Homo sapiens: one gene and its partners. The protein of the gene in region 5 purifies or fractionates together with the protein of the main gene of each other region. This does not show direct contact. Each region holds a gene or a part of one and is shown on either strand. Other genes may lie near its edges. The genes, in order: MAN2A2, STX8, VAMP4, STX18, CLEC12A, PBXIP1 and IKBIP.

Evidence for each region.
Region 1: the proteins of CLEC12A (region 5) and MAN2A2 purify together in Homo sapiens (affinity purification with mass spectrometry; 3 studies listed by BioGRID and IntAct, with this or other methods). This does not show direct contact.
Region 2: the proteins of CLEC12A (region 5) and STX8 purify together in Homo sapiens (affinity purification with mass spectrometry; 3 studies listed by BioGRID and IntAct, with this or other methods). This does not show direct contact.
Region 3: the proteins of CLEC12A (region 5) and VAMP4 purify together in Homo sapiens (affinity purification with mass spectrometry; 2 studies listed by BioGRID and IntAct, with this or other methods). This does not show direct contact.
Region 4: the proteins of CLEC12A (region 5) and STX18 purify together in Homo sapiens (affinity purification with mass spectrometry; 3 studies listed by BioGRID and IntAct, with this or other methods). This does not show direct contact.
Region 6: the proteins of CLEC12A (region 5) and PBXIP1 purify together in Homo sapiens (affinity purification with mass spectrometry; 3 studies listed by BioGRID and IntAct, with this or other methods). This does not show direct contact.
Region 7: the proteins of CLEC12A (region 5) and IKBIP purify together in Homo sapiens (affinity purification with mass spectrometry; 2 studies listed by BioGRID and IntAct, with this or other methods). This does not show direct contact.

Annotation. Positions count from the first base shown.
Region 1 is NC_000015.10:90,906,302-90,909,801, reverse strand, and holds part of MAN2A2 (alpha-mannosidase 2x), read right to left. Parts: intron 3,433-3,500; coding exon 3,305-3,432; intron 3,063-3,304; coding exon 2,889-3,062; intron 2,494-2,888; coding exon 2,307-2,493; intron 476-2,306; coding exon 298-475; intron 1-297.
Region 2 is NC_000017.11:9,502,821-9,506,320, forward strand, and holds part of STX8 (syntaxin-8), read right to left. Parts: intron 2,343-3,500; coding exon 2,218-2,342; intron 1-2,217. UniProt on the Homo sapiens protein: Vesicle trafficking protein that functions in the early secretory pathway, possibly by mediating retrograde transport from cis-Golgi membranes to the ER.
Region 3 is NC_000001.11:171,721,566-171,725,065, forward strand, and holds part of VAMP4 (vesicle-associated membrane protein 4), read right to left. Parts: intron 1-3,500. UniProt on the Homo sapiens protein: Involved in the pathway that functions to remove an inhibitor (probably synaptotagmin-4) of calcium-triggered exocytosis during the maturation of secretory granules.
Region 4 is NC_000004.12:4,437,549-4,441,048, reverse strand, and holds part of STX18 (syntaxin-18), read left to right. Parts: intron 1-2,539; coding exon 2,540-2,655; intron 2,656-3,500. UniProt on the Homo sapiens protein: Syntaxin that may be involved in targeting and fusion of Golgi-derived retrograde transport vesicles with the ER.
Region 5 is NC_000012.12:9,974,409-9,977,908, forward strand, and holds part of CLEC12A (C-type lectin domain family 12 member A), read left to right. Parts: intron 1-3,500. UniProt on the Homo sapiens protein: Myeloid inhibitory C-type lectin receptor that acts as a negative regulator of myeloid cell activation. Myeloid cell inhibition is required to limit proinflammatory pathways and protect against excessive inflammation.
Region 6 is NC_000001.11:154,949,600-154,953,099, reverse strand, and holds part of PBXIP1 (pre-B-cell leukemia transcription factor-interacting protein 1), read left to right. Parts: intron 1-1,178; coding exon 1,179-1,305; intron 1,306-1,564; coding exon 1,565-1,629; intron 1,630-1,702; coding exon 1,703-1,868; intron 1,869-3,500. UniProt on the Homo sapiens protein: Regulator of pre-B-cell leukemia transcription factors (BPXs) function. Inhibits the binding of PBX1-HOX complex to DNA and blocks the transcriptional activity of E2A-PBX1.
Region 7 is NC_000012.12:98,634,789-98,638,288, reverse strand, and holds part of IKBIP (inhibitor of nuclear factor kappa-B kinase-interacting protein), read left to right. Parts: intron 1-3,500. UniProt on the Homo sapiens protein: Target of p53/TP53 with pro-apoptotic function.

The DNA of each region.
Region 1 (3,500 bases), on a different chromosome or scaffold from region 5:
GAAACCCCATCTCTACTAAAACTACAAAAAATTAGCTGGGTGTGATGGCAGGCACCTGTAGTCCCAGCTACTTGGGCAGCTGAGGCAGGAGACTGGCGTGAACCCGGGAGGCGGAGCTGGCAGTGAGCCAAGATCGCGCCACTGAACTCCAGCCTGGGCAACAGAGTGAGACTCCATCTCAAAAAAAAAAAAAAAAGGGGGGCACCCTGCCCGAGTTGGGAACCCAGGGCACGGTCTCACGGGAAGGGATGGGCTGCAGCACTGTGAGGCCCCTCCCCAGTCAAGTGCCCCTCACACCTGCACATGGAGGTTAGGCCTGCTGTTGAAGAAGTCAAAGAGCCGTTGGTAGTTGAAGAACTGGGCATCCCACTCCTGGGGCTTGTCATATCGGAAGTCATCTCCAAGAGGCACCAGGAGGACGTTGCTTCGGAACAGCTGGGACTTCTTCCGGTATTGGTCCAGAAGCAGGGCTGCCCTGGGGCAGGAAAAAAAACATGGGCCCACCACGAAGTCTCATCAGTAAAAGAGCACCACGCACAGCCATCCCGCCAGCAAGCCCCTAGAAGACATCCCATCCACCAAGGAGTGGTTCAGCGCAAACAGACACCTCCTGCACATGAATCCCAGCCCCAGGGGAGTCCGGTGCTCTCTGGGCAGTTCTGACAGCTGACATGTTATTTTTTATGCTAGGCTGTTGAGATCTTTTGGGATCCTGGTTCTGACACTCCCGCCTCATTTTGCCCACCAGTTAGCGATGCAGCACCAAAGTGAAGGGTCTGGACCCCGGAGCCATATCACACCAGCTCCACAAGTACTAGCTCAGTGACTGTGGGCAAGTAACCTCTCTGAGCCTCCATTTCTAGCAAAATAAGGATAACATCCGTAGGTACCCATATAATGTTATGAGAATTAAAATGGATTGAATGGGCCGAGCGCAGTGGCTCACACCTGTAATCCCAGCACTTTGGGAGACCGGGGCAGGCAGATCACCTGAGGTCAGGAATTCAAGACCAGCCTGGCCAATATGGTGAAACCCTGTCTCTACTAAAAATACAAAAATTAGCCGGGTGTGGTGGTGCACATCTGTAATCCCAGCTACTCAGGAGGCTGAGGCAGGATAATCACTTGAACCCAGGAGGCGGAGGTTGCGGTGAGCCGAAATTGCACCACCGCACTCCAGCCTGGGTGACAGACTCCATCTCAAAAAAAAAAAAAAATTAAATTAAATAAATAAAATAAAATCAATGAATGAATATTTGTTAAACACTTAGAATAGTGCCTGGTACATAATGGGAACTATATATAAACATTTCTTTTCTTTTCATCCAAATTATTGGCAAAATCAGTAGAAAAACAGCCCTGTGGCACATCAGCAGAAGCCCTTTCCTACTTTAATTGGCATGTTATAAATATCACAGTCCAAAGAGTCAACTAATCTACTTAGCGGCGCTGGCCCAGCTTGTACTTTTCTACTCTGTTCTCATGAGAGGATTCCTCAAATACCACTTTCCCCTAACTTATCAGTCTAGTAAGCCTTTCAAAGGAGAAAATGGTTACCTTTCAGGGCCTGTTCTTGTAAACCTAGGCCAGCCTCACTGATCACAACTGCTGCTTTAAGAAAAGTCACGCCCTCATAGCCCTAGATTCTTGCCTGGAATCGCCATTTAGACTTCTGGAAACAAAAGACCACTTTATTTCCCTTTTGGTCACGTTTCAACTCTTGGACATCAGGGAGAAATCAGAGCATTGCAACATAAAAACCAATCCAACTTGTCGTATTCTTAAGGTTCTGACTAAATTGCTGTTTGGATCAACTCTTACCTAACACTTTCCCCCGGGGCCTGATTTCAGCAAGAGTGCTATCTTTAGGGGTCCCTAAATTCTCTCAAAAGGGACAGGTCTGTTTTCTCAGAGGCTGGAGGCTATCTCGTGGGACTGAATGTGGATCTGAACAGGATTCTCGTGGTTGACTTAAAGCCAAGTCAGAACACTGGCACTAAGTGAAGGCACATGAGCCTGAAGTTTGTAACATACATCTAACCTGGGAATCCTTCACCTCTAAGTTGTCAGCTGGCCCTGGCAGTTTGTTAGGGCATCAAGAAGTACTCATGTGAGAACCTAAAAGCATTCTGTGAAAGGTGGTTGCAAGAGCCATTCCAGTTTTTCAGGAGACTTAGTAAGGAGCTGCTGCTGCAGAGGCTAGGAGCCTCAACTCACCACCTGAGCCCACCCTCCACGTGGCACGGCCCAGACCAGAGCCAGGCCTCCCGATTCCTCTGTGAAGTGAAAGGGCTGGAAGCAGATACCTCTCTGCCACGTTGGCCTCTGTGATGGCCCGGGGTGGCACCTTCCAAGGGCAGTTGATGCGCCCACCAGGCAGGCGTTTGAAATCAAATTGGCAGCAGATCTTGGGATCTGGGCCACAGGTATGGGGGACGTCATAGCTGTAGAAGGGCATCATGTGACAGAAGATGTCTGTGCTGGAGTCCGAGTCTGCAGGAGACACACCACGTGGTCACCACCAGCAGGCAGCCTCTGGACGCCAGGGGGGCAAGGATCTGTTCAGGCTAAAGGCAGCCCTGATAGACCGCGAGGCTGTAACTGGACCTAGGGCTGGAGAGAGTGTGTAGGCCAGGGAGAAAGACATGAGGGGCTCCCTCAGGGGACGGGCACACAGGGCACGCTGAAGCCCTTGGGACAGCAGGCCCTGTAGAGGCCAGAGGTCAATATGGCCCTCCCCTAACCAGAGGGTGCGACCATTTCTGGCAGTCCACACCAGTGCCTGCAGGTCTGCTCTGAAGAACAGTGGGGGTCTTAGTTCTGATATCCCTGCTGTTCCCCAGTGAAGACTATGCTGCAGTAACCCCCTCTACCCTACCCGGCCTTACCCCATGTCTGCCTCCACATGAACTCTAGGCTGTGGGTGGCAGCAAAGTGCTTCTTGATGGCATAGTGCACTCTCTGAATCAGCATGCTGGTGAGGTTGGCACGGCGCAGCAGGTAAGGCATGGTGGAGCTGTATCCAAAGGGGTCCACTGCCCAGCCAGAGCGGGGGGTTGCACCTGGGCAGGGCATGGAAGCCAGAGAGGCCCTGAACACACCTCAGGGGCTGGCCCCCCGGCCTTCCAGGTGCTGGGACCCCAGCTCTTGTCCTGGTAGTGAGTGGAGAGATGATATCACACCAGGCCCACATGGTGGGATCTGCCTAGAAAGGAACCACCCCCTGCCGATCCCTGTGCCTTACAGCCCCTGCCTGTGCCTTACAGCCCAGGGGGCAGACCCCCATGCCTGGGCCTGGACTTACCAAGATTTCTCTCCAGCCACTGGTGTCCTTCGATGAGCTGGTCAATCAATGCAAAGTAGTGGGAATTGGCCTCATCTGGCATCACCCAGCCTCCTGTCGCAATCTCCAGCTGCCCGTTTCCCACCAGCCTATAGTTAAGGACTCACACTCAGGACGGAGCAGGACACTCTGCCCAGTCCTGCCAACCAGCAAATGT
Region 2 (3,500 bases), on a different chromosome or scaffold from region 5:
GGCCGGGCGCGGTGGCTCATGCCTGTAATCCCAGCACTTTGGGAGGCCGAGTCGAGTGGATCGCTTGAGGTCAGGAGTTCGAGACCAGCCTGGCCAGCATGGTGAAACCCCATCTCTACTAAAAATACAAAAAAAATTAGCTGGGCATGATGGCGGGCGCCCGTAATCCCAGCCACTCGGGAAGCTGAGGCAGGAGAATTGCTTGAACCCAGGAGGTGGAGGTTGTGGTGAGCTGAGATCGTACCACTGCACTCCAGTCTAGGCAGCAAAGCCAGACTCTGTCTCAAAAAAAAAAAAAAAAAAAAAAGAGTGAAATACTGATACACATAACCAGTTCAATGAATCTTAAAATAATTATGCTTAGACAAAGAAGCCAGAGCCCCTTCTTCCCCAAAAGGTACATACTGTATAGTTCTATTTATATAAAATTATAGAAAATGGAAACTAATTTATAGTGACAGAAAGAAGTTCAGCAGTTGTCTGGGCATGGCAGGGAGGAACAATAGGAAGAATTACAAAGAGGCATGAAGAAAACTTTTGGGAATAACAATTAGGTTCATTATTTTTATTGCAGTGATGGTTTCACAGGCATATACATATGTCAAAGCTTATCAAATCATATACTTCAAACATGGGCCATTTATGATCATATCAACTACATCTCAATAAAGCTGACTTTAGATTTATTTTCTCCTCCTCCTCCTCCCTCTTCCTTTTTATTCATTAATTTTTTTAAAGATGGGATTTTACTATGTTGCCTAGGCTGGTGTCAAACTCCTACACTCAAGCCATCCTGCTGCCTTGGCCTCCCAAAGTGTCAGGAGTACAGGCATGTGCCACCAGGCCTGGCAATAAAGCTGATTTTAAAAAGCAGAATTAGAAAGAATAATGTATCTGTACATACTGACATTTTAAAAAGTCCATAACACATACTAAGTGGTTTTTTCTTTTTTTTCCTTTGAGATGGAGTCTCACTCTGTTGCACAGGCTGGAGTGCAGTGACATGCTATATCGGCTCACTGCAACCTCTGCCTCCTGGGTTCAAGCGATTCTCCTGCCTCAGCCTCCTGAGTAGCTAGGACTACAGGTGCGTGCCACCACACCCAGCTAATTTTTTATTTTTAGTAGAGACGGCGTTTCACCATGTTGGCCAGGCTGGTCTCGAACTCCTGATCTCAGGTGATCCTCCTGCCTCAGCCTCCCAAAGTGCTGGGATTACAGGCGTGAGCCACCACACCCAGCCGACACATACTAAGTTTTAAAAAGGTGTGGAATTATATATATATATGGAGAGAGCTAAATATCTCATGATTCCATTTATGTAAAATAAGTATATTTATATTGAATATATGTATGTGAATGTATACAAAAGGTCTAAGGAAATACATATTAATCTGTTTCCAGTTTGAGATTGGAGAAACAATATGGAGGGCTTTCATCTTATACATTCCTATGTTGTTTACACTTTGTATAACAATCATGCATACTTCTGAAATTTTAAAAATATAAGAAAGTTTAAAAAAAAAAAGTTAAAAAGCCACAGGGCAAAAGATAAAAAAGAAAAGCCAAACTGACATATTTTATAATTTAAAAAATAAAATGGAGTCTTGTGTTTGGAGACTAATTCCCAGTCGTGAAGCTAAAGTAAAGAGCATAAGCATCAAATTTGCTTGGACTTAGATTCAGATCTGCTCTCTCTGCTCTTGCCCAATGGAAAATCACCACTTCCATGAGCCACCGAGATGAGTGACAGCAACTGTCTATTCCTCAGGTATCCTGAGGCACACACCAAAAGCTTTAAAAGACCAGCAGTTTTCACTCCAATTTTCAATGGGGATGAGGAACAAACAAGGCTCCAGTAGAAAATCTGGTGGCCGGGCACGGTGGCTCACACCTGTAATCCCAGCACTTTGGGAGGCCAAGGTGGGAAGATCATGAGGTCAGGAGATCAAGACCATCCTGGCTAACAGGGTGAAACCCTGTCTGTACTAAAAATACAAAAAATTAGCCGGGCATGGTGGCACGCACCTGTAGTCCCAGCTTCTCGGGAGGCTGAGGCAGGAGAATCGTTTGAACCCGGGAGGTGGAGGTTGCAGTGAGCCAAGATCACGCCACTGCACTCCAGCCTAGGCGACATAGCAAGACTCCGTCTCAAAAAAAAAAAAAAAAAAATTCTGGCAAGGTTTCTGAGCCCACACTCCTCAGGATATTTAGTACCTTGGATAATTTTCTGCTGCTGTTGCCGGATTTCATCAAAACCCAAGCCTCTGGTCTCCTCTGGCTCCTCAAAGAGCCAAGGGTTGGGTGCTCCTCGCTTAGCCTCTTCACTCATCAGGCTGGACCTAAAGAACAATATTAAATGCATGATATATCTCAAAACATGCAGCTCAAATGCAAATTACTCCCACAAGTGCAGAGGTGGCCAGCCTTGAATGCTTTGAAAATTCAATTCAAACACAATTTATTGCATCATTAGTTTATGCCAGGAACTGTATTCAGTGCTGGACGAGATACAAGGATGAATAAGGCACAAGCTTGGTCCTCAGAATTACAGCCTGTTATAGAGATGATGGGAGAACATAATATTTGTACTAATCCTCCAAGAGATGTTTGAGTTAATAATCCTAAAAGAAGTTGGTAATAAATGAGGTTCTTAAATTTCAAAAACAGAAGGCCGAACAGCGGCCTTTTTATTAGGACAAAGTTTGTCTCAGAGGCTACGTGACCCCAAAGGTACAAATATTATTTCTCAAGCAGACACAATGTTGCGACTACAGATTACAATGTTGTTGTTGTTTTAAAAAAAGACCATATAATTTCCCATTAAAGGGTATTTGGAGCCGGGCGCAGTGGCTCATGTGTGTAATCCCAGCCCTCTGGGAGGCTGAGGCGGGCAGATCACCTGAAGTCAGGAGTTCCAGACCAGCCCGTCCAACATGATGAAACCCTGTCTCTAATAAACACAAAAAAAATTAGCCGGGCTTGGCGGCAGACATCTGTAATCCCAGCTACTTGGGAGGCTGAGGCAGGAAAATCGCTTGAACCTGAGAGGCGGAGGTTGCAGTGAGCCAAGATGGCGCCACTGCACTGCAGCCTGGGTAGCGGAGCAAGACTCTGTCTCAAAAAAAAAAAAAAAAAAAGGAGTATTTGGTTGCTCAGAGACAGAAACACATGCAGGGTTTCAATACCAATTTTGTGACTATAATGTAGCATTCATAACAGAATAAACACATTCTGATTTGTCAATCTTAACCTTACTCCCTCTAATAATCCATGTGCCCTTTCTGCACGAGACCAGTTGGTCTCGCTGTCTAAGGAACAGGAAACACATGATTTCCACCTCAGTCCCCATGTTTTCAGGATTTTTCTCCTCTCAAGTAGCTCCTCTCCTCTCCCCACCTGTCTGCATTCTGTCCAAGCTGAGAAGATCATCTTGTCCAGGACACGACCTTCTGACCAATTCAACAAAGAGATGAACATTAGACTCATCTTTAGAGCTC
Region 3 (3,500 bases), on a different chromosome or scaffold from region 5:
GAAAATCAATGTGCAAAAATCACAAGCATTCCTATACACCAATAACAGACAAACAGAAAGCCAAATCATGAGTGAACTCCCATTCACAATTGCTTCAAAGAGAATAAAATACCTAGGCATCCAACTTACAATGGATGTGAAGGACCTCTTCAAGGAGAACTACAAACCACTGCTCAACGAAATAAAAGAGGACACAAACAAATGGAAGAACATTCCATGCTCATGGATAGGAAGAATCAATATTGTGAAAATGGCCATACTGCCCAAGGTAATTTATAGATTCAGTGCCATCCCCATCAAGCTACCAATGACTTTCTTCACAGAATTGGAAAAAACTACTTTAAAGTTCATATGGAACCAAAAAAGAGCCCACATTGCCAAGACAATCCTAAGCCAAAAGAACAAAGTTGGAGGCGTCACGCTACCTGACTTCAAACTATACTACAAGGCTACAGTAACCAAAACAGCATGGTACTGGTACCAAAACAGAGATATAGACCAATGGAACAGAATAGTGCCCTCAGAAATAATACCAGACATCTACAACCATCTGATCTTTGACAAACCTGACAAAAACAAGAAATAGGGAAAGGAATCCCTATTTAATAAATGGTGCTGGGAAAACTGGCTAGCCATATGTAGAAAGCTGAAACTGGATCCCTTCCTTACACCTTATACAAAAATTAATTCAAGATGGATTAAAGACTTAAATGTTAAACCTAAAACCATAAAAACCCTAGAAGAAAACCTAGGCAATATCATTCAGGACATAGGCATGGGCAAGGATTTCATGAATAAAACACCAAAAGCAATGTCAACAAAAGCCAAAATTGACAAATGGGATCTCATTAAACTAAAGAGCTTCTGCACAGCAAAAGAAACTACCATCAGAGTGAACAGGCAACCTACAGAATGGGAGAAAATTTTTACAATCTACCCATCTGACAAAGGGCTAGTATCCAGAATCTACAAAGAACGTAAAGAAATTTACAAGAAAAAATCAAACAACCCCATCAAAAAGTGGGCGAAGGATATGAACAGACACTTCTCAAAAGAAGACATTTATGCAGCCAACAGACACATGAAAAAATGCTCATCATCACTGACCATCAGAGAAATGCAAATCAAAACCACAATAAGATACCATCTCACACCAGTTAGAATGGCGATCATTAAAAAGTCAGGAAACAACAGGTGCTGGAGAGGATGTGGAGAAACAGGAACGCTTTTACACTGTTGATGGGAGTGTAAACTAGTTCAACCATTGTGGAAGTCAGTGTGCGATTCCTCAGGGATCTAGAACTAGAAATACCATTTGACCCAGCCATCCCATTACTGGGCATATACCCAAAGGATTATATCAAGGGAACCACCCCCGATAATTCAACATAGGACCTTTTCTATTTTCCCTAAGTGTCGGCTGGTCTGAGTAATAAAGGGAAAGACTACAAAAGAGAGAAATTTTAAAACTGTGTGTCTGGGGGAGACATCACGTGTCGGCAGGTTCTGTGATGCCCCCCTACGCCGCAAAACCAGCAAGATTTTGTTGTGATTTTCAAAGGGGAGGGAGTGTACTAATAGGGTGTGGATTATAGAGATCACATGCTTCACAAGGCAATAAAATATCACAAGGCAAATGGGGGCAGAGCAAGATCACACGACTGGGGCAAAATTAAAATTGCTAATGAAGTTTCGGGCACGCACTGTCATTGATAACATCTTATCAGGAGACAGGGTTTGAGAGCAGACAACTGGTCTGACTAAAATTTACTGGGCAGGAATTTCCTCGTTCTAATAGGCCTGGGAGACCAGGGCTTATTTCATCCCTTATCTGCAACATATAAGACACACATTCCCAGAGCAGCCATTTTAGAAACCTCCCCTAGGAATGCATTCTCTTTCTCAGGACTGTTCCTTGCTGAGAAAAAGAATTCAGTGATATTTCTCCTATTTGCTTTTGTAAGAAGAGAAATATGGCTCTGTTCTGCCCAGCTTTCAGGCAGTCAGACCTAATGGTTATCTCCCTTGTTCCCTGAACATCGCTGTTATCCTGTTCTTTTTTCAAGGTGACCAGATTTCATATTGTTTAAACACACATGCTTTACAAACAATTTGTGCAGTTAATGCAATCATCACAGGGTCCTGAGGCGACATACATCCTCAGCTTACGAAGATGACGGGATTAAGAGATTAAAGTAAAGACAGGCACAGGAAATCACAAGAGTATTGACTGGGGAAGTGATAAATGTCCATGAAATCTTCACAATTTATGTTCAGAGATTGCAATAAAGACAGGTGTAAGAAATTATAAAAGTATTAAATTGGGGAACCAATAAATGTCCATGAAATCTTCACAATTTATGCTCTTCTGCCATGGCTTCAGCCAGTCCCTCCATTCGGGGTCGCTGACTTCCCACAACGGATTATAAATCATGCTGCTATAAAGACACATGCACACATATGTTTATTGTGGCACTATTCACAATAGCAAAGACTTGGAACCAACCCAAATGTCCATCAGTGACAGACTGGATTAAGAAAATGTGGCACATATACACCATGGAATACTACGCAGCCATAAAAAAGGATGAGTTCATGTCCTTTGTAGGGACATGGATGAAGCTGGAAACCATCATTCTGAGCAAACTATCGCAAAGACAGACAACCAAACACCGCATGTTCTCACTCATAGGTGGGAACTGAACAATGAGAACACTTGGACACAGGGTGGGGAACATCACACACCGGGTCCTGTCATGGGGTGGGGGGAGGGAGGAGGGATAGCATTAGGAGATATATCTAATGTAAATGATGAGTTAACTGGTGCAGCACACCAACATGGCACATGCATACATATGTAACAAACCTGCACACTGTGCACATGTACCCTAGAACTTAAAGTATAATAATAAAAAATAAAAGAAAATACTTAAGGATCAATTTGACAAAGAAAAAAATACAACATCTGGACACTGAAAACTACAAAACACTGCTGAGAGAAATTAAGTACCCAAATAAATAAAAAGATATACTATGCTCATGGGTCAGAAAACCAAATATTGTTAAGATGTTAATTATCCCCAAATTCATCTATAGGTTCAATATAATCTCAACCAAAATTCTAGCAGGCTTGCTGGAAACTGACAAGATGATTCTAAAATTTATATGAAAATGCTTAGAGCCTCCAATAGCCAAAAGAACTTTCAAAAGGCAGTGCAAAGTTGAAGGATATACACTACACTACCTCACAACTTACTATAAAGTCGTAGTACTCAGGATAGTGATTACTATGGTATTGATGTAAGAAAGACACATAGAGTCCAGAAATAGAGCCACACATATATAGTCAATAAATTTTTATTGTGGTAAATATATATAACATATATTTACTATTTTAACCGTTTTTAAGCATACAGTTCTGTGGCATTAAGTAATTCACTTAATGAACTGTCATCACCATTCATCTCTAGAACTTTTTCATCTTTCAAAACTGAAACTCT
Region 4 (3,500 bases), on a different chromosome or scaffold from region 5:
ATGAGGCTCCCAGCAAGCACCAACTTGCTAGCCATGTGTGTGGCCTCCTTGGAAGTGAACCCTCCAGCCCTGGTCAGCCCTTCAGATGACTGCAGCCCTAGTTGCCTTCTAACTGCACCCTCCTGAGACACACAGAGCCAGAACCACCCAGCCAAGGTGTTCCCAAATTCCTGACCCCAGAAGCAGTGATCAGTAATAAATCTCACTGTTTCAAGGCACTAAGTTTTATGACTCAGCTGTAGTAACCAGAACAATTAAAAAGATTGATAACAGTGACTTTTGAAAAAATTTTTTGTTAAATTTTGTAGAGGACCATTTCCTAAATAGTCTTTTTGAGAAAACTGCTCTCAAAAAACTCTGTGAAGAGAGTGTCTGCAATCAGGTTATTTGCAAATACCATCCTTTTTGGAAATTCAAAATGTATTTGAGCATATTAAAGGCTCTGAAAACTTATATAGTGAAACACCTTTCTAGCTTTGACTCAGCTTTCTCAGACTGATTCGACCACAGAAGTCCTTTCCCACAGCCCAGGATGGGTAGAATATACCCCACATGGAGCAGTTGTTACGAGCATGGGCTTCAGAGCTAGGTTCCCTGAGGTCATGTCCCAGCCCAGCCATTTGCTGACTGTGACCTGGGCAAGTTTCCTAACTTCTCTACACCTCAGTTTCCTCCTTTGTTAAAAGGTTGTTAATACTAGTACCTACCTGATGGGGATATTCGAAATTAAATAAATTTATCCATACAAATTGCTTAGAAAAAATGTCCACTATATGAGCCATTAACAAATGTTAGCTGGCATTAGTAATATCACCCTAATATGCATTTACATTGTTCCTTTAATTACAGTCTCTCTGCCTAACAATATGGAATTTATCCTAGATAGCACTCTGCCTATAATTTTATAGCATTTATGTAGATTCTAGTAAAGCTATTACAAAGCCTGTTATTGCATAACCTAAACGTTTTCTTATTAACCAGTTACTTGTATTTATAATGCACTCATTCATTCAACATATATTTATGCAATGGAATACCAGGCACTAATCCAGAATCTGGGATCTAGGAGCAAGGCTGACAACCAACAGATAAATAAACAGGGGGATTATAGACTGTGATAACTGCTATGGAGAAAACAGATGCAGAGGAGTGGGAGGCGGCCTTTCCTTCACAGAAGAGTCAGAGGTGGCCTCTCTGAGTAGGTGAAATTGAGCTGAGCCCTGTAGATGGGAAGGAAGACGATGCCCTGGGAAGAGCCCGTGGGGAAGAAACAGGGGAATGCCAAGTGCAGAGGACTCAGTCCTGAAACAAGTCTGTGCCTTCAAGTGGGTATTTAAGGACTTGTGCTTTCAGAGCTAACTTATATTAAGATGTGACTTAGAACATATACGTGTGTGGGTATAGGTATATATATGTGTGTGTATGAGTATATATGTTGGGGGGTATGTGTGTGGGGGTGTGTGTGTGTATATATATGGGTAGGGGGTATATATGTGTGTGTTTCTGTGTGTGTATGTGGGAGTATATGTGTATGTATATGTGGGGGTATATATGAGTGTGTGTGTGTATGTATATATGTGTATGTAGATATATGTGTGTGGGGGAGGGTATATGTGGGGGGTATATATACATATCTGCACATATATGGTGTGTGTGTGTATGTAGGGGGTATATATGTGAGTGGGGGGTATATATATGTAGTATATGTATGTGGGTGTGTATATATGGTATGTGTATATGTGTGGGTATGTGTGTGTATATATGTGTGTGTGTTTATGTGGGTGAGTATATGTGAATATATGTATGTGGTGTGTGTGTATATGTGGGGGATATACATGCATGTATGTATATATATGGGGTATGTGTGTATGTAGGGGGTTATATATGTGTGGGGGGTATATATATGTGGTATATATATTGTGTGTATACATGTGGGGGTATGTGTGTGGGGGTATATGTGTGGTGGTATATATGTGTGTGGGTATATATGTGGGAGGGTATGTATATATGTGTGCATGGGTATATATATGTGGTATATATGTGTGTGTGTGGTGTGTGTATATGTGTGGGTATACATGTGTTGGGGGTATATATGTGTGTGGGGGTATATATATATATATGAATATATGTATAATATGTATTATATATTATTATTAATAACATACTCAGCAATCTTTTTGCATTAGTGTCAACTACTGGGTAAGCATCAATCCAGCTTCCTGGGTTTGTTGAGTGCGGTGTGTCAGTCTATGGAGCGTATTCAGCACATACCAACTGCAGCCTCCCCCTGCATGCTGGTCACTGTGCCGTGGCTGCAAATGCAGAGGGCATGCACAATCTCTACCCTGCAGGCAATAATGCCAGTGTTAAGTGCCCCAGTGGAGGTGTGTCCGGATGGCCACTGGGCCCAGAGGCAGTGACTGCTCCCCAGTACAGGGACACAGAGCAAAAGCGCAGGGTCACATGTGACTCCTTCTGTTTTCAAAAAGGAATCCTGTTATGGAAATAAAATACCTGCCTGCTAATTATTTATTTTTAGATCTAAGCTGGAACCAGAACCAAATACAAAGACAAGAGAATCCACATCTTCTGAGAAAGTTTCACAGAGTCCTTCAAAAGACTCTGAAGAAAACCCTGCCACTGAAGAACGTCCAGGTACGAATTGAGATGAAAATCTCACCTTGCATTTCTTCCTTGTGACATGTTGGCAAGAGTACAGCACAGGAACGAAGTAGCACAGTCTCAGACATGTTTTGGTGTTTGTATTTGCATAAAGCAAAGGAAGCAGGAGGCGGCAGCCTTTGTGTCTGTCACAGTTGATCTTCGTGAGTGCCACAGAGGCAGGGGGTGCATTCACCCAGTCACCTGGGAGCTGGCGGGGTCCGGGAGAAAGGGCCTGCTGGAGGGGTGAGGCCGGGAGCTGTCTGCCTCAGGAGCCCTGTGTGCCGGCCTCAGGAGAGGCAGCATTGCCTCCCTGGCAGCCATGCCCTGCATGTCAGCTCTGAGCTGCCAGGCCTGCATCCGGGTAGAGTGTATAACCTCAGCAGCCTTGCACAGCCAGTCAAACCAACAGGACAAAATGCAAATCTGAATTGACGTGCTGCCTATCACCACAGATACTAGAGGGCCCATGGCTTAGAATAGTTCCTGATGCACAGGAGATGCAGAAGAAATACAGGGTCTCCATGAAGTCCGAAAATGTAGGGGGACATACACAGTGTGGTCATGGATGTCTGCGATCTGTGTGTCTGGCTGGTACCCCTGCGTAGGGATGCCTGCATAGTTTGCCATATCTCAAAGGCAGAGTGGAGCAGGGTTCTTTGTGTGAATCACAGGGTGATGGCGTGCTGGAGCCAGGAGAGACCTGGGAGTCCCCTTTAGCATCCTTCTCCGTAGTCTCATGGCAGTTCTTATTAACTCTTGTCTTCCAGATGCTAGGCATGGTCCTGGACATGTCACAGAAATTACAGGTTGAGTATCTCTTATCTGAAATGCTTGGG
Region 5 (3,500 bases):
CTCCCCAATATCTCTGTATGACCTTTCCCTGAATCTCAAGACTAGAAAATACATGTGCCACTTTCACATTTCCATAAGGAGTTCTAATCTCATTTTAAACTTAAAATGTCAAAAATAGTAATATTTATTTTTCTTCTAAAATTGTCTCTCTCTCCAGACAGCCTCATCTCATTAAATACACATATAAATATATATTTAAATACAATTTTCAAGTGTTTTCTCTGTGCCAGTTCTGTTCTAATTGCATTATAAATATTAAATTATTTAGTGTCTGATACTTTGCAGTCTTTCTGTCTCCCATGCTTTAACCATATTGAAACTCAGACACAGAGATGTTAAAAGGTGTTAAATAATTTTCCCGAGGTTTCACAAGCAATAAGCAGCAGAACCAGAATTCAAACCAAAACATACTGATATGGTTTGACTGTGTCTCCACCCAAATCTCATCTTGAATTGTAGCTCCCATAAGTCCCACATGCTGTAGGAGGGACATGGTGGGAGGTAATTGAATCATGGGAGCGGGTTTTTCCCATGCTGTTCTTGTGATAGTGAATAAGTCTCATGAGATCTGATGGTTTTATAAAGAGGAGTTTTCCTGCACAAGTTCTCTCTTGTCTGTGGCCATGTGAGATGTGCCTTTCACCTTCCACCATGAGTGTGAGGCCTCTCCAGCCACATGGAACCATGAGTCCATTAAACCTCTTTTTACTTATAAATTACCCAGTTGTGGGTATGTCTTTATCAGTCGTGTGAAAATGAACTAATGCAGTAAATTGGTACCAATAGAGTAGGGCGCTGCTGTAAAGATACCCAAAAATCTGAAAGAGACTTTGGGACTGGGCAACAGGCAGAGGTTGGAATACTTTGGAGGGCTCAGAAGAAGACAGAAAAATGTGGGACAGTTTGGCACTTCCTAGAGACTTCTTGAATGGCTTTGACAAAAATGGTGATAAGGCTGAGGTGGTCTCAGATGGAGATGAGGAATTTGTTGGGAACGGGAGCAAAGGTGACTCTTGTTATGTTTTAGCAAAGTGACTGGTAGCATTTTGCTCCTGCCCTAGAAATTTGTGGAACATTGAACTTGAGAGGGATGATTTAGGATATCTGGCAGAAGAAATTTCTAAGCAGCAAAGCATTAAAGACGTGACTCGGGTGCTGTTAAAAGCATTCAGTTTTATAAGGGAAGCAGAGCATAAAAGTTCAGAAAATTTGTGGCTTGACAATGATAAATAAAAGAAAATCCCATTTTCTGAGGAGAAATTCAAGCCAGCTGAAGAAATTTCTAAAGTCATGGGAAGCCAAATGATAATCGCCAAGGCAATGGGGAAAATGACTCCAGGGCATATCAGAGGTCTTCCCAGCAGCCCCTCCCATCACATGCCCAGAGGCCTAGGAGGAATAAATGGTATTATGGACTGAGCCCAGGGTCCCTCTGCTGTGTGCAGTCTAGGAACTTGGTGCCCTGCATCCCAGCTGCTCCAGCCATGACTAAAAGAGGCTAAGGTACAGCTCAGGTCATGGCTTCGGAGAGGGTGCAAACCCCAAGCCTTGGTAGCTTCCATGTGGTGTTGAGCCTTTGAGTGCACAGAAGTCAAGAGTTGGGTTTTGGGAACCTCTGTCTAGATTTCAGAGGATGTATGGAAATGCCTGGATGTCCAGGCAGAAGTTTGCTGCAGGCATGGGGTGCTCATGGATAACCTCTGCTAGGACAGTGCAGAAGGGAAATGTGAGGTCAGAAGCTCCACACAGAGTCCCCACTGGGGTACTGTCCAGTGGAGCAGTGAGAAGTGGACCACCGTCCTCCAGCTCTCAGAATGGTAGATCCACTGACAGCATGCACTGTCCACTTGGAAAAGCTGCAGACACTCAATATCAGCCCATGAAAGCAGCCATGAGGGAGACTGTACCTTGCAAAGCCACAGGAGCAGAGCTGCCCAAAGACATGGGAGCCTACCTCTTGCATCAGCATGACCTGGATGTGAGATATAGAGCCAAAGGAGATGATTTTGGAGCTTTAAGATTTGGTGCCCTTTGGACTTGCATGGGGCCTGTAGCCCCTTTGTTTTGGCCAATTTCTCCCATTTGGAATGACCGTATTTATCCAATGCCTGTACTCTCATTGTATCTAGGAAGTAACTAACTTTCTTTTGAATTTACTGGCTCATAGGTGGAAGGGACTTGCCTTGTCTCAGATGGACTGTGGACTTTTGAGTTAATGATGAAATGAGTTAAGTCTTTTGGGGACTGTTGGGAAGGCATGATTGGTTTTGAAATGTGAGACATGAGATTTGGGAGAGGTCAGGGTGGAATGATATGGTTTGGCTGTGTCCACACCCAAATCTCATCTTGAATTATAGCTCCCACAATTTCCACGTGTTGTTGGAGGGACCTCGTGGGAGGTAATTGAATCATATGGTAGGGGTGTTTCTCGTGCTGTTCCTGTGATAGTGAATAAGTGTCATGAGATCTGATGGTTTTATAAAGGGGAGTTTCCCTGCACAAGTTCTTTCTTCTCTTGTCTGCTGCCATATGAGGTGTGCCTTTCACCTTCCACCATGATTGTGAGGCCTCCCCAGCCGCGTGAAACTGTGAATCCATTAAACCTCTCTTTCCTTATAAATTGCCCAGTCTTGGGTATGTCTTATTAGCAATGTGAAAATGGACTAATACACATGCTAACCCTAAAGATGGTGTTTTGCTTTTTATCACTATGAGATACTGCCTACAAATGTGCATATCTACCAACTTTCTCTAAAGAAAAATTTCAGAAATTTTTGCAATAGATTTTAGCTTAGAAATGTATACTTAATTTATCCATGGGTCATCAAATTCCCTAGTACTAGCTAGTCAAACTTCTGTTCTCTTTCACATGTCATACTGTAACAGATTTCTTACTGATAAAACAACTCTGTTATTTTGCCCTCCTAGATTAAATTCTTCCAGTGGTTTCCCCAAAAATCTAACTTATTCTGGCTAGAAAAGGCTGTAAATAATGTCTCCTCCTTGTTATTTTAAAAACAAAACAAAAGAAAACAAATAAAACCTTTAACATCATTTTTCACATTGGCCACAATTCTTCTGCCCCTCTGAATATATTCTGTTTTTCAAATAGAAATCTTTTCCTTAAATTATTGTCTTTGAACTTCATGTAATTGCTACCTGTAATGTTCTTCCTACTTATTTTGCATGCTGGTTCCTATTCATAAGATTTGAACTGCCTGCTCTCTATAACAGCTTAGTTTTAAATCTCTGCACAACATCGCCAAATTTGAGATCTTTTCTCCCTTTCTTTCTTTCTCCCTGTCTCACTTATATATCTATTTATCTATTTCCTCCTACAATTAAAATTTATAGCTGTGAAAACAGGAACTTGTACATCTTGCTCACTTTGATATTGTTAGCACCCAGGATAATGTCTAATAAATACAAGGCACTCAAAAGATAACTTTTGAATAATTGAACTTTTTAATAATTGAATAAGTTCATTGAATAAATAAACT
Region 6 (3,500 bases), on a different chromosome or scaffold from region 5:
CAGGTAGCAGCTGGTGGGGCAGAAGCCCACTGAGGAGGGAGAAGGGGGTTGGCAGGATGGGGAACTGAGTGGCTAGAGAAGGGATGGCAAAAATTTGTCAAAGGCATCTCTGAGAGTTCCAAGACGTAGCGACTTTGTATATTAGAGCCACCAGGAGGGGAGGAGGAGAGAAGCTCAGTTTCAACATGTTGAGTTTGAGGTGCCCTTGAGGAACCCAGCTGGGAGTAAGGAGTTGACCTTGGGGATGACGCTGGAGCAAGATAATGGACTGGGGCTCACTGGCAGAGGGAAGGCAGGTATGAGCAGACGGGCACCAGGCTCTCAGAGCCCTGGCCTCCTGTTGAGGTGTCTTTGTTGACAGCTGGGGGACCTTGGGCATGCCATTTCACCTCTCTGTCCTCTCCTGTAAAACGGGCGTCATGATTTTTGCCTTGTAGGGGGGACCATGAGAATAAAAATGTTTTGAAAATAGCAAAGACATAACTAAGGTGAAGCATTACTCTCAGAGGGATAGTTGGAGCCACGGGGCGGGTGGCAGGCCAGGGCCCTATGGAAGGGGAGTAGGCAGAGGGAGGAGGCCGAGGCTGTGTGGCCAGGGCTGGATGTCCAGGCTGAGAGTGCCCTGGAGACAGGCTGTCTGTGGTTGGGGTGGGTTGGGCTTCTGTGAGCAGCTGCTGGGAGACGGGTGTCGGGGGAGTGTCAGGGGCCAGCGGGAAAGGCCAGAAAGGCTTGAGAGATGTAAGTAGTTGTCCAGTTGAGAGGGCAGCTGCAGGGACACCCTGGGAGGCATAACTGTGACCCGTGGGCACCCAGGGGACTTTGTTCTCTTGCCTTCTTCCCACCCTTAATATTATAATATCTGGGTTGTTCATCTGTGGGGAAGGAAGTGCTGCTGATCTTGATGGGAGGGAAACGTAGGCTCTAGCTCACCTTCTGGAGGCGGGGCACCAGGTTTGTACTGCAACCAGTGCCTTGGTCTGGTGGTGCGGCGCTGTGTAGCGGAAACCTGGCCCCTGAAAGTTCCTCCTCGCAGTGAGTGAGGCTGGGGAATGCCGAGCACTTGGTGCTGCCCCGAGCCCCTTTTTGGGCCAGCTCATGACTGAATGTGTGTGTTTCTGGGATGTGGGCTGGGGCCCCATTCTTGGGTGCAGCCCTTCTCCTTGCACTTCTCCTCCCAGAGCCTGCCAGTGGAGACACTGGGCCCGGCATCCAGGATGGACCCAGAATCTGAGAGAGCCCTGCAGGCCCCTCACAGCCCCTCCAAGACAGATGGGAAAGAATTAGCTGGGACCATGGATGGAGAAGGTACTGGGCCCTGCTTAGGACATAGCTTACCGGACAAAGCTATTCTCCATATTTTGGGGTTTCTCAGTTTCCTCAGAGAAAGGGAGGCTGGTTCGTTTTAGTTCCTCCATTAATCTCAGTTGACAAACTCCTTTTCTCATTCCATCCTGGCTTTTTCCTGCCTCTTCCAACCTGGTAGGGGCCCGTGGGATGGACAGAGGGCTGCAAAGGAAATTCAGCTGGGGCAGTGGGTTTTTCTGCGCCTTTTCTCCTACCGCAGGGACGCTCTTCCAGACTGAAAGCCCTCAGTCTGGCAGCATTCTAACAGAGGAGACTGAGGTCAAGGTGAGGAGATTTGCTGTGGGAAGGAAGGGAGGCGGGGAGGGCTAGCAGCTGCTCACTGCTGCATCTGCATTAGGGCACCCTGGAAGGTGATGTTTGTGGTGTGGAGCCTCCTGGCCCAGGAGACACAGTAGTCCAGGGAGACCTGCAGGAGACCACCGTGGTGACAGGCCTGGGACCAGACACACAGGACCTGGAAGGCCAGAGCCCTCCACAGAGCCTGCCTTCAACCCCCAAAGCAGGTGAGAGTCTTCCTTGCCTCTCCTGTCACTCTCCTTCTAGAAGGTATGGGAGAGGGATCAGCCATCACTACTGAGCACATGCTGTGGTCCAGGCCCTAGGGCTGAGCAGCTTGGTGCTCTCCTTTCTCACCACTACCCCTGGGACGTTGAGGCCCAGAAAGGTTGAATGACTTGACCAAGGTCACACTGCTGGTAAGGGGCAGGGCCCACATCTGGTTGACTCTTTCCTCTCTGCCATGGGGACCTCCTCTTTTCTTGCTTCCAGAATTCAACCCTCATTTCTGGAGTCCCTTCCTTGTGCTGGCCCTGGGCCTGGGCAGAGGGAAGATGGTTGGTTACCGCCTATGTAAGCGGCAGATCAGACTGAGCCAAGGTGCATATCAGACCTAAGAGTGGTACAGAACTGTAATTAAGGTACTCCCAAAGGAAGGAGAGGCCATTCAGTCAGGGGACTGGTTGAGGGCAAGGGAGAGGCTGGGACAGTGAGAGGTGACATTTGAGTGGAGCCCTGAGCACAGAGTAGGCTTTTGGTACGTAGGGCAGGGAAAAGAGAATGTTTTAGGCCAAGGCTGCAGCATCAGCAAAGGAGTGGGGACCACCTGTCTTGTGCTAAGGAGCTCTGTTCCAGGCTTGTGGCAGAGGAGTGTAGGAATTGGTCCCTGTTGAGTGACAGGATGGAGGGCCTGGGGGCCATTTAGGAGGCAACTGCAGTGGTCAGGCAAAGATGATGCAGACCTGGGCCAGGCATGGTGGCTCGTGCCTATAATCCCAGCACTTTGGGAGGCTGAGGTAGGAGGATTGCTTGAGCCCAGGAATTCAAGACTGCAGTGAGCCATGGTCATCCCACTTCACTCTAGCCTGGGCAACAGAGGGAGACCCTGTCTCTAAAGGAAATAAAAATAGGCGGCAGGGTGCAGTGGCTCACGCCTGTAGTCCCAGCACTTTGAGAGGCCAAGGTGGGTGGATCACCTGAGGTCAGAAGTTTGAGACCAGCCTGGGCAACATGGTGAAACCCCGTCTCTATTAAAAATACAAAAATTAGCTCGGTGTGGTGGTGCACGCCTGTAGTCCCAGCTACTTCCCAGCTACCTGGGAAGCTGAGGCAGGAGAATCGCTTGAACCTGGGAGGCGGAGGTTGCAGTGAGCCAAGATTGTGCCACTGCACTCCAGCCTGGGTTACAGAGGTAGACTCTGCCTCAAAAAATAAAAATAAATAAAATAAAATAAAATAAAATAAAATAAATAAAAATAAAAATAGGCTGGGTGTGGTGGCTCACACCTGTAATCCTCACACTTTGGGAGGCACAGGCAGGAGGGGCTGGGCTAGGGTAACCCACCTAGGCCAGGCGTCTGTCCTAGCATCCTCCCCCAAAAGGAATGTTTCCTATTTACCCACACATCCTGACCCTCCCCTCTCCCACTATAGTCAGGGCGTCTTCCCAGTTCTTGGTTCACATCCCTTGTGCTAAGGTTTGGGCCAGGGCTGGCATACCTGTTCCACATGGTACATGAAACATACATGGTATCACCTGTGATTGATTGGTGTGGTCTGCCTGGAGCACTGTGTGGAAAAGGATTTAAAGAACATGCCAGGTGCCATGATCAGTTAACACTGTTCCAGGTATGGGAGGT
Region 7 (3,500 bases), about 89 Mb from region 5:
ATAAGGTATTATCCCCACTTCACAGATGAGGAAACATCAAAGTTATTTAACTTGCCCAAAGTGGTTATACAGCTTAGTAAATGGCAGAGCTAAGGCAGTCCAGTCACCCACCTAATCAGTATGATTCGTTGCCTCCATTCGATATTAATCCCCAACAAAAGGCCAAGATCCTAGAAATAGAAATCCCCAAGTCCAGAATTACTTATAGTTCTTTTCTTCCTTCTACTTGAAGGTATACCCTTTAGCAGACCCTAATTGCTTGTTTTTCACTCTCATCTAAATGGGAAGACTGGGAACTGCTCTCACTAGAATATGCCCCTGACTCATAAAAAGGAAATAAAGGACCTTATACCCTAACATGGATGCCAGTTTGAAAGCTTAGTTTTTCAGATCTGAAGCAGCTTTCTCAGCATATTTTCTTGACTTCTAGAAAATCAGTCATCTAGGCTGGGTGCGGTGGCTCACGCCTGTAATCACTTGAACCTGGGAGGTGGAGGTTGCAGTTAGCCAAGATCATGCCACTGCACTCCAGCCTAGGCAGCAGAGCGAGACCCTGTCTCAAAAAAAGGAAAGAAAGAAAAAAGCCGGGCGCGGTGGCTCACGCCTGTAATCCCAGCACTTTGGGAGGCTGAGGCAGGCGGAACATGAGGTCAAGAGATCGAGACCATTCTGGCCAACATGGTGAAACCCCATCTCTACTAAAAATACAAAAATTAGCTGGGTGTGTTGGCACACGCCTGTAGTCCCAGCTACTCGGGAGGCTGAGGCAAGAGAATCACTTGAACTCGGGAGGCAGAGGTTGCAGTAAGCCAAAATCGTGCCACTGCACTCCAGCCTGGTGACAGAGTGAGACTCCATCTCAAAAAAAACAAAAAGAAAGAAAAATCAATCATCTTCTTTAATGTTAAATGAATTAATATTTATCAAGTACTTAGAATAGTGTCTGGCACAAATAAGGGAAAAATAAAATATATTTTAACGCAGCACAGCACATATCACTTCATTTTTTTCATCACTAGTGCTGAGTCAGCTTTGTACTTTTTTCTTATATGCACCGTTCACATGTAGCAAGGATGAATTTTTTTTTATTTTAGTAAGAGGCTAATCAAAAAAAACTACTAATTATCAGAGATGATATTTCCACTAACATGACACAGGTTGTGTTTAAAGCTTGAATTTGAAAAGAAGTTCTGAGAAAGTTCATTAATGTATTTTTTGTAATGAATCAACCTTCATACGAAAGTCTCTTATAATAATGATTTCATTCTGAATAAACTCGCTAATCTATAGTATAGATCTATGGTGGAGTATTGGATAATAAAACTAGTCCCTGAAATGAACTGTGTTTCTTCTTTTACTTTTTTTTTTTCCCCCCTGGCAGGGAGGGACAGGAAGGCGTGAGGAGGGCAACTCTTATTTCTTTAGGGTGGTCTCTTTCTTAATAAGGTCTCTATCTGCTGGTCTTAGATATCCAATACTCTGGGGGAAAAAAAAAAAATCCTAAAAGCCAGAAATGAAACAGCCAATGAAAAAAGAATTATGTTCACCCTTCCATCTCAGAGAATTAGGATAATAGTGTTTTCTAATAACCAGAAGCTTTAAAGGTTCCTATTAATTTAAACACAGGAGAAAAGTCAATCTGTGCTAATAATGTAACCTGGGATCCCGTATAATAGAAATTAGCCAGCATCATCAAAAGAAATGTATTTCCTCCAGTATTGTAAACATTTGTCTAATTTAGCTTTGGACAGTTTTGTAGCTACGGTTAGCCTAATGATGCCATTTATGAATTCAAAGCATTACCACTTTTGCAAGGATGCACAAAGTTCAGATAACTGCATTTACTCAGAAAAGTCTTTCACCTCTCCATTAATCCTTGGGATCTTTAAATGATTGCCTTTCAGTGGAAATGAATTTCACAAAACATGGTCAGTCAGTATGGTTCTAAGTTTGGCTGTGCACTTAGATTACCTGAGAAGCTGTTGAGTTTCCAACATCCAAGCCACATCCCAAGCCAATTAAATCAGAATCTTTGTGAGACCCAGGCATCAGATTTGTTAAAGCTGCCAGGTTATTACAATATGTAGCAAAGCTTTTGAACCACTTGTCTCAGGACTGTGTTTAGGCAGGTACTTATGGTTCTGCTCCATTGCGTTTTGATGACTCAATATGCAAAGAATTTCAAGTGTTTTTTTCTGAGCCTAAAGAATTGAGTTAAAGTAGACAAAATGGTATTGGATCCAAGACAATTCTTTTATGCTTGCTCATTTCAAATCCTGTATAAACAGATGTTGATTTGTTGTTTTGAAGATTGAGATAGCTTTTTGGGCTTCCACCCATAATGAAGAATAAACTCCAATTTTAGAGTGACATCTCAAGTACACCTATACGAGTCACATCACTGAGTATAACCAATTGTGCAGTTTATACACTCTGCACTGATTGTGATCTATTGTCACTTTGGCAATGGCTTTTTTCTATTTTCATACCTCTTTTCACACCTCCTGCTATTTTGCAACTTCTAATTACTATCACTTCTCTCTTCTACTCCACTGCTTTTTATCAGTCAACTCTTCTACATTTCAGTTTTAAAATACTTTTTATAGACGACTCTTGTTTCGCCTACATTTCAGCATAAAAACACCTATTTTCTAGATATTACCCAATCATGGCCTTGTGAAAAACAGTAGAGATCAAAGATCTTGTTCTAAATTTTTCACTTTGTCCTCCTCTAAAATATTTCTTGTGCATGCATCTATTACAGATATCACACCATCTTATTTGGTGGGCTGTGAATTGTGAACAAGGGCAGTGCTTTACTCATCTTTGCATGAGTTAAACCAGTACCTACCACATGAAAATCTGTCAAAAGAAACTGATAAAAGCTGCATCTAGGCTGGACATGTTGACCCACACTTGTAATCCCAGCGCTTTGGGAGGCTGAGGGGAGGATCACTTGAGGCCAGGAATTCAAGACCACCTTGGGGCTGGGCACAGTGGCTCATGCCTGTAATCCTAGCACTTTGGGAGGCCAAGGCGGGCAGATCACTGGTCAGGAGTTCAAAACCAGCCTAGCCAACATGGTGAAACCCCATCTCTACTAAAAATATTAAAAAATTGGTGGGGCGTGGTGGCAGGTGCCTTTAATCCCAGCTACTTGGGAGGCTGAGGAGGAGAATCGCTTGAACCCAGGAGGCAAAGGTTGCAGTGAACCGAGATCGTGCCATTGCACTCCAGCCTGGGCAACAAGAGCAAAACTCCATCTAAAAAAAAAAAAAAATACCGGGCGTGGTGGCTCACGCCTGTAATCCCAGCACTTTGGGAGGCCAAGGCAGGTGGATCACAAGGTCAGGAGATCGAGAGCATCCTGGCTAACACAGTGAAACCCCGTCTTTACTAAAAATACAAAAAATTAGCCAGGCGTGGTGGCAGGCGCCTGTAGTCGTAGCTACTCGGGAGGCTGAGGCAGGAGAATAGCGTGAACCCAGGAGGCGGAGCTT